Homo sapiens: one gene and its partners. The gene in region 1 interacts genetically with each later gene. Each region holds a gene or a part of one and is shown in the gene's direction. Other genes may lie near its edges. The genes, in order: KDM5C, MAP3K1, KDM6A and MTOR.

Region 1 (3,615 bases):
CTGGATCAGTGGGTCCAGGGTGTGATGGGCCATAGTCATCTGCTACCTGTCTTCCCCCAGATGGTGCCCACAGAACTTGTGGAGAAGGAGTTCTGGAGGCTGGTAAATAGCATTGAGGAAGATGTGACTGTTGAGTATGGAGCTGACATCCATTCCAAAGAATTTGGCAGCGGTTTCCCTGTCAGTGACAGTAAACGGCACCTAACCCCCGAAGAGGAGGTGAGTGGATGATTCATGGTTACGTGTCAGCTGTGTGAGCTTAGGCAAATCATTTAGTATCTGAAAAACTCAGTATCTCTGTAAGATGAGGATAATTATGCCTGTCTTATGTAGCCATGAGATTTAGATGAGATGAAAGAAAACAGTCTGGTACCTGGCATGTACAAACATGAGATGGGTTCTTTCGCCTCTGTGAGCCCATTTCCTTATCTTTAAAATGGGGATAATATCTACTTTGCAAATTTGTTATAAAAATTAAATGAGAAGGTATATGAGATCCTGGCTCATCCATAAGTAGTGTTCAGGGAGTGGGGTTTGTATGCACAGGAGAAAATGAGGGCCTAGTTGTGCTTCCAAGAAAGGGTACATTTTGATCCAGAGCAGGATTTTTTTAACTTGCAGGTATTTTGGTAGGTGGATATATCGGTAAACTTCGTAGAAATTGAAGTGAATACAATTGAAATTTTGTGTGTATGCTTTTTGGTGGAGAGGTAGGGAGAAAACCTATATGTTTCTTAAGATGTTTCAAAAAAGTCTCTGACCTCAAAATTAAGGTTCCCTAGGCTAAAGAAAATGACTTAAGATCTCAGTTCCTTAGCATAACCCTCATGCCCTTTTTACAAATACCTGACCTGGCAGGAGTATGCTACCAGTGGTTGGAACCTAAATGTGATGCCGGTGTTGGAACAGTCTGTACTGTGCCACATCAATGCAGATATCTCTGGCATGAAGGTGCCCTGGCTCTACGTGGGCATGGTCTTCTCAGCCTTTTGCTGGCATATTGAGGATCACTGGAGTTACTCCATTAACTACCTCCACTGGTGAGTGGGACCCTGGGGAGCCAGGGAATCAAGTCAGTGTGGGCTCCCTGCATGACCAAGGTGTGATTTACTGTGTGTGTCCCTTTTCCACTTGTGCAGGGGTGAGCCGAAGACCTGGTATGGGGTGCCCTCACTTGCAGCAGAACATTTGGAAGAAGTGATGAAGAAGCTGACACCTGAACTATTTGATAGCCAGCCTGACCTCCTGCACCAACTTGTCACCCTCATGAATCCCAACACCCTCATGTCCCATGGTGTGCCAGTGAGTACCCAGGCAACAGGGACAAGCGGCAGGAGTGATTTAGTGATGTCCTTTGTGATGGTGGTGGTGGCGGTGGTTGTCATCTGTATTCTGCCCCTGGCCTTTCTTCATTGCTGTTCTTAATTGGGCTACGGGTTTGACTAGTCTAGTAGAGACCCAAAATAATAGTGATTAGATGCACCGTATGATGGTATGCCCTCTGGGCCATGTGTTTGACGGTAACAGCTAAGGGGTGGCTTATTATCACATCTACATTCCAGCCAGTGGAAGAGGGAAGTGGGGAAGTGCAGGGCTAGACAAATCTTTTAAAGGCACACATCATTTCCATTCACCTTCTGTTAGTAAAAACTTGGTCATATGACCACATCTAGCTGCAGGGAAAACTGGGAAATGTAATTCTTATTTTGGATGGTCAAGTACCACTTAAAACTGGAGGTCATGTTGTTATGACAGAAGACAAGAATGAATATCGAGGTACAACTAGCAGCCTCTGCCATACTTTGTATACTCTTACCCTTCTCAGAGCAGTGGATAGGTCTTTTTATTTAACAGGTCAAAAGTTGAACCCAGAGTTCTGGTCTATCCTCTGTGTACTTCTTTCTTACCCTTTAAAACATTTTGCTGGGTATACAACATGGCTTACCTGTGAGAGACTTTATATTCCTGGGAATTTCTAGCATTGATTAGCATCAGCCAGTTTTCTGGTGTGGATCTTAAAACAGCCTGATCACTAGTCCTGTAAGAACAGGAATTAGTAGATCCTCTATCTCTGCTTTAAGTATTATCCGGGGCTGCTACTCTTCCCTACACCCTTCCACGCTCTTTGGCCTTGGACACATTACCACTTACTCTAATGTATGAGATAGTCAATAAATACTGAATTAATGTCTCCTTCAGATATTCCTAGATATCTGTACAGTAGGGCTTTGGACTAGGTCAGTGGTTCTCACCTGCATTTCTTTTTGCCTTCTCCTTGTTTTGGTATACTATATGCCCCATGAGTAATATTTTTTTATTATAAAATTTAGTGATATTTAACCAAGGACTTGGGATATCTAGGGAATTGGACAGAAGGAGGTGTCCTATAACAGTTCAGGCAATCTTCCTCCACTCAGGGAGTTATCCTTTTCTCTCTCTACCTCACCCCATTTAAGGATGATGATCAAGGGCTTGAGTTCTGCTGCTTTACAAGTAGACATGGGGTCTGACTTTCCTTAGACTTCTCTCTTCCTGACCCATAGCACAGCATCAGTCCTTGTCTATAATGCCATGGAAAACTGTAAAAGAGGATTCTCTTGGCCAGGCACGGTGGCTCACGCCTGTAATCCCAGCACTTTGGGAGGCCAAGGCAGTCAGATCACTTGAGGTCAGGAGTTCAAAACCAGCTTGGCCGACACGGTGAAACCCCAGTCTCTACTAAAAATACAAAAATTAGCCAGGTATGGTGGCGCACGCCTGTAATCCCAGCTACTCAGGATCAGGAGGCAGGAGAATCGCTTGAACCCGGGAGGCAGAGGTTGCAGTGAGCCGAGATTGTACCACTGCACTCCAGCCTGGGCAACATAGTGAGACCCTGTCTCAAAAAAAAAAAAAAAAAAAAAAAAAAAAGAGCCGGGTGTGGTGGCTCATGCCTGTAATCCCAGCACTTTGGGAGGCTGAGGCGGCCGGATCACCTGAGGTCAGGAGTTCGAGACCAGCCTGGCCAACATGGTGAAACCTCGTCTCTAATAAAAATACAGAATTAGCCGGGCGTGGTGGCACGTGCCTGTAGTCCCAGCTACTGGGGAGGCTGAGGCGGGAGAATCACTTGAACCCAGGAGGCGGAGGTTGCAGTGAGCCGAGATCGTGCCATTGCATTCCAGCCTGGGCAACAGGTGGAGAGACTCCATTTCAAAAAAAAAAAAAAAAAAAAAAGGATTCTCTGAAGGATTTGGGTAGCTAAGAGGCATATATATATATATGTGTGTGTGTATATATATATATATATATATATATATGTATGTGTATATATATGTATATATACATATGCAGAAGGTCATGGAGCTGTTTAGTCCTTACCGCTTTTTAAAAAACTTTATCACAGAATCCAAAATACGTGCTTTTTGCTTACACCTCCACAGCATTTCTCCTGCTCGTGGCTCATCATCTTCTCTGGCCAGCTGCTACTTTACCACCCAGCCCTCTGTCTGCCCTGCCCTTCCTATAGGTAGTTCACAGCATCTCCAGGCCCTTTGGACTTGGCAGTATCCCCTTAATTCAAGTATCTGTGATTTTTATGTTCTCATGCTGGGAGACTGCAGTTTAGCCAGCTGG
Region 2 (3,615 bases), on another chromosome or scaffold:
GCAATACAAATTTGGTAAAAACCATACTTTGAATTTTGATTTTTGTCTGAGCTAGCAATATGTGCTATGATACACTGGTGATGCTAGGCAGTGGCAGCGAGTCACAGCTCCCAGTCAGCCACACAATCACGAGAGTGAACAACCAATACTCTATAGTGGACTGTGTTGTCAGATGATTTTGCGGAACAGTAGGCTAATGTAGGTATTATAAGCACATTCAAGGTAGGCCAGACTAAGCTATAATGTTTGGCAGGTTAGGTGTATTAACTGCATTTTCAACTTAAAAAAATATCATCAACTTAAAAGGGGTTTATCACGACATAACCTCAGCGTAAGTTGAAGAGCATCTGTGTATGTGTGTATTTCCAGGAGTTGATATTGTCAATGGTGTTGTCAATGTTAGTGACATACATAGTCACTTCTTGTTATTTGAGGTAGTTATGCTCTGTTAAGTTGCTACAAATATTGAATTAGCAAATACTAAAACACTGCTTCTAGAAGAAATATGTAGTGTGTTTATATGTATATGTATGTGTGTATATATATCCATCCATCACTTTAAAAACGTGAAATTCATGCATTTTACATAATTCAAAAATCTTAAAATCTAATTTACCATTTTCTTTTGTTCGTTTGTTTTTTGTTTTTGTTTTTGAGACAGAGTCTCGCTGCAGTGCCCAGGCTGGAGTGCAGTGGCACGATCTCAGCTCACTATAGCCTCCGCTTCCCAGGTTCAGGCAGTTCTCCTGCCTCAGCCTCCCAGGTAGCTGAGACTACAGGCACGCGCCACCATGCCCAGCTAATTTTTGTATTTTTAGTAGAGATGGAGTTTCACCATATTGGCCAGGCTGGTCTCGAACTCCTGACCTCAAGCCCACCTCAGCCTCCCAAAGTACTGGGATTACAGGCGTGAGCCACCACTCCTGGCCTAATTTACTATTTTGTATATTTTAAAAATTCACACCCAAGTCAGTTCAGTCCTGTCTGCCTTTCCTACTTTTTTATAACTCACAAATCCATTCTCTCCTTTTCCACCATAGAATAAGTAATGGTTGATATTCTTAGCTTTTCAGTAGATGTGATGGTTGAAATCATGGGCTTTGGAGTCACACTGACCTAGTTTTAAACCCTGGCTCTACCCCTTAATGGCCATGTAATCATAGGAAAATTATTTTTTGTGTCTACCCTCCATTTTCTCACATGTAAAATTGGTGCAAGAACCCCATGAAGCATGTACTTCGTGGGATTACTATGAAGATAAACAAAATTATACCTAGGCCTTAGTCAAGCACTCAGCCCACACAGTCAGCTCCACCTGCCATAACCTCCTCCAGTGCTCCCCACACTTATTATATAACCTCCTCAGTCACCTCTCTGACAATACCTGTTTTGTATTATCACCTCATTTCCTCTATTCTTTCAGACGTCCCATGTCCGTTCTCTACGTGGTTCAAATTCTTATTCTCTTTAAGGCCCCCATTTTGTGCTTCTCCTGCTTGGGCACCCCCTTTTTACTCATTCCAGATTCTCATAGCATTTTAGTACATACTTGTTTCTGACACTTTGTTTCTTGTTTGCTAGTTATGTTCCTATCTTGCTGCCTCTTTCAAACTAATTCTCCTTGAGGTCCATTCATGTCTGATTCATTTTCTTCTTCCCAGAGTCTTATACAGAAGTTGCTCAATAAATACTCATGGCTAGGATCAATTTGAAAGTTTGATGTTATTTTAAGAGTTTTGATGAGACCCTGGAAACAATTGTAAATAATTTTCAAATTGGCACAGTTCATATTTTAACAGATTTCATTGCATTCTCCTTCCTAGGTAGAGTTTAAAGAGAATTGTACTGTAACATTTTCAGTTTCCTTAATTTGGAGTAAATACTTTGAGGTTTTTGGAAGCACCCCAAAGCTTTCTCAAACACTTCCATACCCTGTTTATGGTAGTATAAATTGCCATAGCACGTTTTTTTAGAGAGTGATTTGGCAATATCTGCCAGAATTTTTAATGCACTTATTCTTTGACTCAGCTATGCCCATTGTTAGGAATTTACTCAAGATTACCTCTAGAAGTACCAAGTGCCAAGTTCAGGATTATTCACTCTACTCAAGAAAGTAATTAAATTATCCACACTATACAGAAATTAAACGAGTATGAAGCTGTTGGTGTTGATTTACAAAGTGCTACAAGATACATTAATAAGTGAAAAGAGCAAGGTATATAAAGTGATCCTGGCCAAGCACAGTGGCTCATGCCTGTAATCCCAGCACTTTGGGAGGCTGAGGCAAGAACAAAACTTGAACCCAGGAGTTGGAGAGCAGCCTGGGCATAGCGAGACCCCATCTCTACCAAAAAAAAAAAAAAATTAGCTGGGCATAGTGAGACGCACCTGTGCTCCAGGGTACTCAGGAGGTTGAGGTGGGAGGATCGCTTGAGCCCAGGAGGTCAAAGCTGCAGTGAGCCATGTTCATATCACTGCACTTCAGCCTGGGTGACAGTGAGAGCGAGACCCTGTCTCTAAATTAAGTTTTCTCTTTTGTAGACATTTTAGAAAATCTTAAGTCTGTGAATATATTGGCCTTTTTTCCTCCACAAAACACACACAGACACACACACACCCCCCCCCCCCACACACACACACACAAATCATCAGTAAGTTACATTTGGGGAAAAGAAGGAAGAGGGACTTTTTTTGTTTTGTATTTTTCCTTTTTGTGGTGTGTAAGATGTGTATATATCAGCTGAGTATATCATGATACAGGATCACAGACCTTAGAGGATTTTTCTTTATATTACTTTGCATTTTTTAACCCAAAGCATTTATGAAATTACTGGGGTAGGGAAAAGAGAGTTTTCTTGTGATTAGGAGTGGATAGGTGAGTTTAAAGTATTCAGACTTGATATTAGCCCTTTGTCAGATGAGTAGATTGCAAAAATTTTCTCCCATTCTGTAGGTTGCCTGTTCACTCTGATGGTAGTTTCTTTTGCTCTGCAGAAGCGCTTTAGTTTAATTAGATCCCATTTGTCAATTTTGGCTTTTGTTGCCATTGCTTTTGGTGTTTTAGACATGAAGTCCTTGCCCATGCCTATGTCCTGAATGGTATTGCCTAGGTTTTCTTCTAGGGTTTTTATGGTTTTAGGTCTAACATTTAAGTCTTTAATCCATCTTGAATTTTTTTATAAGGTGTAAGGAAGGGATCCAGTTTCAGCTTTCTACATATGGCTAGCCAGTTTTCCCAGAACCATTTCTTAAATAGGGAATCATTTCCCCATTTCTTGTTTTTGTCAGGTTTGTCAAAGATCAGATGGTTGTAGATGTGTGGGATTATTTCTGAGGGCCCTATTCTGTTCCATTGGTCTATATCTCTGTTTTGGCACCAGTACCATGCTGTTTTGGTTACTGTAGCCTTGTAGTATAGTTTGAAGTCAGGTAGCATGATGCCTCCAGCTTTGTTCTTTTGGCTTAGGATTGACTTGGCAATGTGGGCTCTTTTTTGGTTCCATATGAACTTAAGTAGTTTTTTCCAATTCTGTGAAGAAAGTCATTGGTAGCTTGATGGGGACGGCATTGAATCTATGAATTACCTTGGGCAGTATGGCCATTTTCACGATATCG
Region 3 (3,615 bases), 8.2 Mb from region 1:
TTCTTATCCTAAATTCTCAGGCCAATTATTGTCTATACTGGCCATTTGATATGACATCATGACATTTTTAATGTATCTTCAGTCCTCAACTAAATTGTAAGCTTCATGAAAATAGGGACTGGGTTTTTGTTTTTTTTCTTTTTCCTTTAGTGCCAAGAATAAGAAGATAATTTCAGTATTTATAATTTCAACTGTTATCTGTGTATCCATCATGTCCATCGTGTATATTCACATTAAGAAAATTACAGTCCTTGAATCGTTAATCTTACCTTGCTAACTTTACTAGTCATAAAATATTATACTTTATATTATTTTTACTTTTTACTTTATACTATTTTTGATACTTAGTTTGAGATTAACTATGTCTTACATGTGCATTTTTTTTATGAATTAAAGAATTATTGCCCTCAGTGTTGTTACTTGGGAAAGGAAAATTGAAATCTGATACAGCAAATCTTACCAACGTATATAGTGTTTTTGTTTTTAACTCTGTATTTTGACCATATAGGAAACTAGAGGTCAAGCTGTATAAGAAGAGTGGAAGAGTGCCGTGTGTGTGTGTGTGCACATGTGCATGCAGCTCTCAGTATTATAATATTGAAGTGATATGTCCCCTAATCATTTTAATAGAGTTCATTAATGCAGCATGCTTTTTAGCACCTATAAGACAGACTATAATATGGTTTGTTGGAGGGCAAATTATAATATTCATTATAGTTAACAAGTATATACATACATACACATAAATATATTAACTTATTAGGGTTTTAAAAAAATTTGCTGTGATATATAGTCCATCCTTTCAGCCGATTAATTTGTTTCAGTATTAATGGAATTCTCTTGATTTTTTTTTTTTTTCCCTTCCCTTCTCAGGTGCTATTCAAGTATTGGGAAAGTTCAGGATGCCTTTATATCTTACAGGCAGTCTATTGATAAATCAGAAGCAAGTGCAGATACATGGTGTTCAATAGGGTAAGCCTTTGTATAAAAATAGTAGTAATTTAATTGATATACAAAGATGGTTGCATCACATATAGTACTTCATAGTTTAAATCATTATAAAACCAAGCAGTTCTTCTGAGTTGACTTATTTTTTCTTAATTTCTCTTTCCAGTGTGCTATATCAGCAGCAAAATCAGCCCATGGATGCTTTACAGGCCTATATTTGTGCTGTACAATTGGACCATGGCCATGCTGCAGCCTGGATGGACCTAGGCACTCTCTATGAATCCTGCAACCAGCCTCAGGATGCCATTAAATGCTACTTAAATGCAACTAGAAGCAAAAGTTGTAGTAATACCTCTGCACTTGCAGCACGAATTAAGTATTTACAGGTAAAATTTTTAAATGGCAGTTTTTTAAAGCCACATATTTCCCCAGAACACTCAGGCAGAAGGAGGGTGGCTGGAAAGTTTGTCTAGTTGTGTTTTGATGTCTATAATCTGTTTCCATATTTTGTAAACATACCATAGCTTGTAATATTATTTTACTTTTCATTTTAAGTAAGATATGCAGTATTTTTAAAGATGCTCTTTTGCACATTTACTCTGTTGATGCATATTAATTTACATAATTTTTTTCTATGTACTGTCTACATTTTTAAGTTGTCATAGCATTTTATAGAAAACACAAACAGTCTTTCACTCTTGCTTGGAGTTTCTTGAGAAGACAGCTATGAGAACTCTGAAAACAGAGCTCAGCTTTGTTTTGATTCTCACAAAGGTTTATATTCCGGTTACCCTGTTTATACTTAGTGTCTTCTAAAGCCCCAAATTTAGAATCTATTTTCTTTTAAAAACAATTAGCTATAGCATTTAGGAAGATTTAGTGGACTTGCTCTTACTCAAGTAGGCTTGTGTTAAATTTGCTTTTTACATAATTTTTCCTAGGCTCAGTTGTGTAACCTTCCACAAGGTAGTCTACAGAATAAAACTAAATTACTTCCTAGTATTGAGGAGGCGTGGAGCCTACCAATTCCCGCAGAGCTTACCTCCAGGCAGGGTGCCATGAACACAGCACAGCAGGTGAGAAGTTGGGTTATGTTCTGCAGGTGCCCAGCTTTAAGGGTTCTTTTCAATTCTCTAGTGGTCAAGCTTAATTTACTAAGCACAGGAGGCTTTTAGTAATGAAAAGCCTTTTGATTTAATTGCAAAGGGAATCTAGATCAAAATAAAATTCCCTCTAATATGGGAAGAGATTTTGGGGTACCAACTTAGAACCTTTGTGCATTTTCATGATTTTGAAGGAGATTTCTTAAAATAATGCTACAGTGGTTTGTTTAATTTTTAAGGCAAGTTTTTCAAAGGAAGGTACACATTATTCCATTGATGAATCATTTAATTTTGATTTTCAATCATTGCAATCAGCGATGTCCACATAGCTTTGAAAAGTATGCAGCTTGTAAAGTTTTATAATTTGAAGGAATGAATTAAGAATATATAGAACCCTATTTTTGTCTTCCTTCTGTGATTCTTAGGCATGTAAACCTCATCATCCAAATACTGAACCTGTATTAGGCCTCAGTCAAACACCAATTTCACAGCAATCCTTGCCACTACACATGATTCCTTCTAGCCAAGTAGATGACCTGTCCAGTCCTGCCAAGAGGAAAAGAACATCTAGTCCAACAAAGGTATATGTTTTAGAGAAATAGAAAATCCCAGTCAAAAAAGAAGTTTCAGCTGCCCTGAAATTGTGCAGTTTGAACATTTCCTGTCCTTTATTTTAAATTTGTGGACATCAAAGAGTGAAAGGTTTGAGTTTTTCCATCCCAAACCCTTAGTATCATATTAAATATAGAAAGTAGGGATAAATTTGCATTCATCAAATCATTTTATTCATCTCCCTGCCGTTAAGATCCCAGCACACTTTTCATCATCACTTTTTACTGACATTGAAATAAATTTAATGTTGGATCTAGTGGACAGTGTGGTGTTTAGGCTAGCCGTTTGGGCCATAGTTTGAGGGTGGGCCTTTTTGGGTGGCTTATTAAATAGTCAGTAATTTTTAAATGTATGATTTCTAAGTTTAATATGCATGTAAAATTATTTTTTAAAGAATTTAATGTTATAACATCTTTTTAACATGTAAATATTCCAATTCATAGTCATTTGGCCTCCTCTAACCATTATTATTAACTGTGGATTTAACCAAATATTCTTTAATTTTTTTTTTAAATCGATTTTCCTCAGAATACTTCTGACAATTGGAGTGGTGGACATGCTGTGTCACATCCTCCAGTACAGCAACAAGCTCATTCATGGTGTTTGACACCACAGAAATTACAGGTATGTAAGATGTTTTTGACAAATTGTTTATTAAAAAGGAGTAGAGGTAGCAAACAAGTATTAATTTTTTTTTTTTTTTTTTTTTTTTTTGAGATAGAGTCTTGCTCTGTCACCCAGGCTGGAGTATAGTGGCACGCTCTTGGCTCACTGCAACCTCCGCGTCCTGTGTTAAAGTTATTCTTGTGCCTCAGCCTCCAGAGTAGCTGGGATTACAGGCACGCACCATCACACCCCGCTAATTTTTATATTTTTGGTAGAGACTGGGTTTCGCCATGTTGGCCAGACTGGTCTTGCACTCCTGACCTCAAGTGATCCACCTACCTCAGCC
Region 4 (3,615 bases), on another chromosome or scaffold:
CCAAGTAGGCTAGGCCGATAGCCCACAATTTAACCTCCCTACTACACTGCCTCTTTTAAACATCAGTCATTGTTTAATGAATCTAGGCTTTCTAAATGTTCCTCAATCAGATCTCTCAACCTTTTTAGAATCCCCTGCCTGACAAGGGCTAGGGGGAGATCTGTGTTGGGTGACCAGGGCCATAAGTAAATTTATCATCATACTTTCTTATCCAGAATATTAAAGGAAACTTCTCTCTAAAGAACCTCAGGGCAAGATGCTTGGAACCGGACCTGCCGCCGCCACCACCGCTGCCACCACATCTAGCAATGTGAGCGTCCTGCAGCAGTTTGCCAGTGGCCTAAAGAGCCGGAATGAGGAAACCAGGGCCAAAGCCGCCAAGGAGCTCCAGCACTATGTCACCATGGAACTCCGAGAGGTGCTTCTGGGATCTGGGGCCAGTCATTGTGGGATGTGTGGGCTAAATGTACCATCACTGGTTTACATTTTTTTTTGTACAGCTAAGTGAGGATTTGGAAAACAGAGATTATTTTATAAAGGCACCCAACCTGTCACATCCATAAAACATGCAGGTTCTTTTGCAGCAGTTGCACATTTTTGTAGCATTTTTCTTGTTTGTGGTCACATTTTAGGGGCCAGAATAGACTTAGCTGTTTCTTTTAACTTTTTATTTTTTCCTTACCACATACCACACCCTCAAATGCTTTCTGTCTGATAACAGTGATTGGGATGGGTTTGGAGAGTTGAGAGCTAGGGGCTTTCTAAATAGAGACCAGACTTGAGGTCAGAGACAGTATCTTGTTTCTCCTTTTATCCCTGGTACTAGAAAGAACCTAGGACAGGACATTTTCTGCCACAGAGTAGATACCTAATAAATATTTGTTAAATAATCAGATGATTGCAAGTTCAGGTACTCTACAGTGTAATCCTATAGAAATGGGCAGTAACTTGTCTTCTTTGGTTTGAACTATACCTCCTGCCTCTCAGGATCTAATCTTTAGATGCCAGCCCACTCCCACCACCACAGTTAGAGAATTATTAGAAATTGTTCTGATTATATCTTCTTTTGCAGATGAGTCAAGAGGAGTCTACTCGCTTCTATGACCAACTGAACCATCACATTTTTGAATTGGTTTCCAGCTCAGATGCCAATGAGAGGAAAGGTGGCATCTTGGCCATAGGTAAGGACAGAGTCTCTGGTCACAAAAACAACACACTCACCTTTGTGCCCACTGCACCCTGTGTCTGCCACTTACTGGATACTAGTTCATATTTGCTTAATGAAATTTAAGAAGCCCGTGGCTTTTAATTCTAGCAGCAGCCCTGGGCCACAGGAAAAACGTATTTTTAGATGTGGAAGTGGAGTCTCGGAACCATCGAGTGACTTTTCAGACAGTTTACCAGAGCTGAGACTAGAAGCCAGCTTTCTTTCCACTCCTTCATATTGCCTTTTGTGGGCTCTGCTTCCTCAGTAGAGCAGGGTTTCGCATAGTGGGGCTCACGAATGGAAAAGTGGAATCGGTATAGTTAATAAAAGGCAGGTCTTTTTTTTTTTTTTGAGATGGAGTCTCACTCTTGCCGGGGCTGGAGTTCAGTGGTGCAATCTTGGCTTGCTGCAACCTCCGCCTCCTGGGTTCAAGCGATTCTCGTGCCTCAGCCTCCCGAGTAGCTGGGATTACAGGCACCTGCCACCATGCCCAGCTAATGTTTGTATTTTCAGTAGAGACAGGGTTTCACCATGTTGGCCAGGCTGGTCTCGAACTCCTGACCTCAAGTGATCTGCCCACCTCAGCCTCCCAGAGTGCTGGGATTACAGGTGTGAGCCACCACAACTGGCCAGGCAGGTCATTTTTAACTTCTAAGGACTGGTCATCAGTCCTGTGAATTATTATCCAGTCCCAGTTGTTTTCCCTTTTTGGGGGGTAGGGGAGAAAATTATACTAGCATGAGATTATTTTGCTTTATGTAAATATTTCTGGCACAAGTATTAAATATCTGGGTTAAAATGAAAATTGTATCTGTCCTTGCCATCTAGAAATGTACTCAAAGTAGAATGGAGGGTTCACTCGCCAGATTTTTTTTTTTTTTTTTTTTTTTTTCTCTGAGACAGAGTCTCACTCTGTCGCCCAGGCTGGAGTGCAATGGTGCAGTCTCGGCTTACTGCAACCTCTGCCTCCCAGGTCCAAGCAATTCTCCTGCCTCAGCCTCCCAAGTAGCTGGGATTACAGGCGTGTGCCACCACGCCTGGCTAATTTTTTTGTTTTCTTTTTTTTTTTTTTTTTTTTGTATCTTAGTAGAGACGGGGTTTCACCATGTTGCCCAGGCTGGTCTCAAACTCCTGAGCTCAGGCAATCCGCCCGCCTCAGCCTCCCAAAGTGCTAGGATTACAGACTTGAGCCACCGTGCCTGGCCGGCACTCACCAGCTTTTAGTTGAAGTCTGCGTACTTTCCTGGCCAGCATACGCCCCATCATCACCTTTTGCCTTCCTCTCTTTTGCAGCTAGCCTCATAGGAGTGGAAGGTGGGAATGCCACCCGAATTGGCAGATTTGCCAACTATCTTCGGAACCTCCTCCCCTCCAATGACCCAGTTGTCATGGAAATGGCATCCAAGGCCATTGGCCGTCTTGCCATGGCAGGGGACACTTTTACCGCTGAGTACGTGGAATTTGAGGTGAAGCGAGCCCTGGAATGGCTGGGTGCTGACCGCAATGAGGGCCGGAGACATGCAGCTGTGAGTGTCTACAGGGAGGAGCACAGCCAGGCTTGGGGAACGATGGTGTCATGGGGGGGTCTTTTGCTTCCTTCTGAGGCTCATTCCTTAAAAAAGCTGGTTAGAAGAGCTAGGATTCCAGGCTGTGAGATGGGGTAGAGTCCGTCCTTAAGAGGGAATCTAGCATGGTGTGGTGGGGATCAGAAGCATCAGCTGCGTGCTTTCCAGTCTGCTGCCCTTCGGAGGAGGCAGTACTGTGAGGAGGGGGCACGGTACCAGGAAAAGGACACACACTTGGACCCTGGCTCAAGTCTTGGCTTTGCAACTTCCTACCTAACTCTGTAACCTGGGGCAGCTTCTGACCTTCAGTTTCTTCCTCTGTCAAATAAAAATAACAACAGGATTAAACATTAAACAGGATTATCCATTCAGTAAATATTTACTACATACCTACTGTATTCCAGGTAGAGTTCTAGGCTGTTAGTATAGTGGTAAAGAAAACATAAAACACATCTGCACTTCCAGAACTTATGTTCAAACATTACAAGCATTCTGTGTTTGTAAACAACCTAGGATAATGAGCACTGAGATGTTTAATCAATTTTGCTTTCCTTCCTCTGTCCTCAGAATTTCCTAGCTAGAAGAGTGAGCAAGCCTTCTCTGTTCCTGGTGTGTATGGCTCTAAGATGACAAGAGACTGTACTCCTGAGAGAACAAAACTCTGGTACCAATGAGAGTTCTCGGTTTGCTTTTTTCTCCAGGTCCTGGTTCTCCGTGAGCTGGCCATCAGCGTCCCTACCTTCTTCTTCCAGCAAGTGCAACCCTTCTTTGACAACATTTTTGTGGCCGTGTGGGACCCCAAACAGGCCATCCGTGAGGGAGCTGTAGCCGCCCTTCGTGCCT

The links.
Region 2: changes in KDM5C (region 1) and MAP3K1 together harm fitness more than expected from each alone (negative genetic interaction), as found in Homo sapiens cells (one large-scale study listed by BioGRID).
Region 3: changes in KDM5C (region 1) and KDM6A together harm fitness more than expected from each alone (negative genetic interaction), as found in Homo sapiens cells (one large-scale study listed by BioGRID).
Region 4: changes in KDM5C (region 1) and MTOR together harm fitness more than expected from each alone (negative genetic interaction), as found in Homo sapiens cells (one large-scale study listed by BioGRID).

The regions. Positions count from the first base shown.
Region 1 is NC_000023.11:53,208,101-53,211,715, reverse strand, and holds part of KDM5C (lysine-specific demethylase 5C), read left to right. Parts: intron 1-60; coding exon 61-219; intron 220-858; coding exon 859-1,040; intron 1,041-1,139; coding exon 1,140-1,302; intron 1,303-3,615. UniProt on the Homo sapiens protein: Histone demethylase that specifically demethylates 'Lys-4' of histone H3, thereby playing a central role in histone code. Does not demethylate histone H3 'Lys-9', H3 'Lys-27', H3 'Lys-36', H3 'Lys-79' or H4 'Lys-20'.
Region 2 is NC_000005.10:56,888,533-56,892,147, forward strand, and holds part of MAP3K1 (mitogen-activated protein kinase kinase kinase 1), read left to right. Parts: intron 1-3,615. UniProt on the Homo sapiens protein: Component of a protein kinase signal transduction cascade. Activates the ERK and JNK kinase pathways by phosphorylation of MAP2K1 and MAP2K4. May phosphorylate the MAPK8/JNK1 kinase.
Region 3 is NC_000023.11:45,058,133-45,061,747, forward strand, and holds part of KDM6A (lysine-specific demethylase 6A), read left to right. Parts: intron 1-873; coding exon 874-972; intron 973-1,114; coding exon 1,115-1,334; intron 1,335-1,889; coding exon 1,890-2,024; intron 2,025-2,476; coding exon 2,477-2,632; intron 2,633-3,191; coding exon 3,192-3,287; intron 3,288-3,615. UniProt on the Homo sapiens protein: Histone demethylase that specifically demethylates 'Lys-27' of histone H3, thereby playing a central role in histone code. Demethylates trimethylated and dimethylated but not monomethylated H3 'Lys-27'.
Region 4 is NC_000001.11:11,256,051-11,259,665, reverse strand, and holds part of MTOR (serine/threonine-protein kinase mTOR), read left to right. Parts: intron 1-215; exon of another isoform or gene 216-242; 5' UTR 243-256; coding exon 257-418; intron 419-1,072; coding exon 1,073-1,181; intron 1,182-2,500; coding exon 2,501-2,733; intron 2,734-3,473; coding exon 3,474-3,615. UniProt on the Homo sapiens protein: Serine/threonine protein kinase which is a central regulator of cellular metabolism, growth and survival in response to hormones, growth factors, nutrients, energy and stress signals.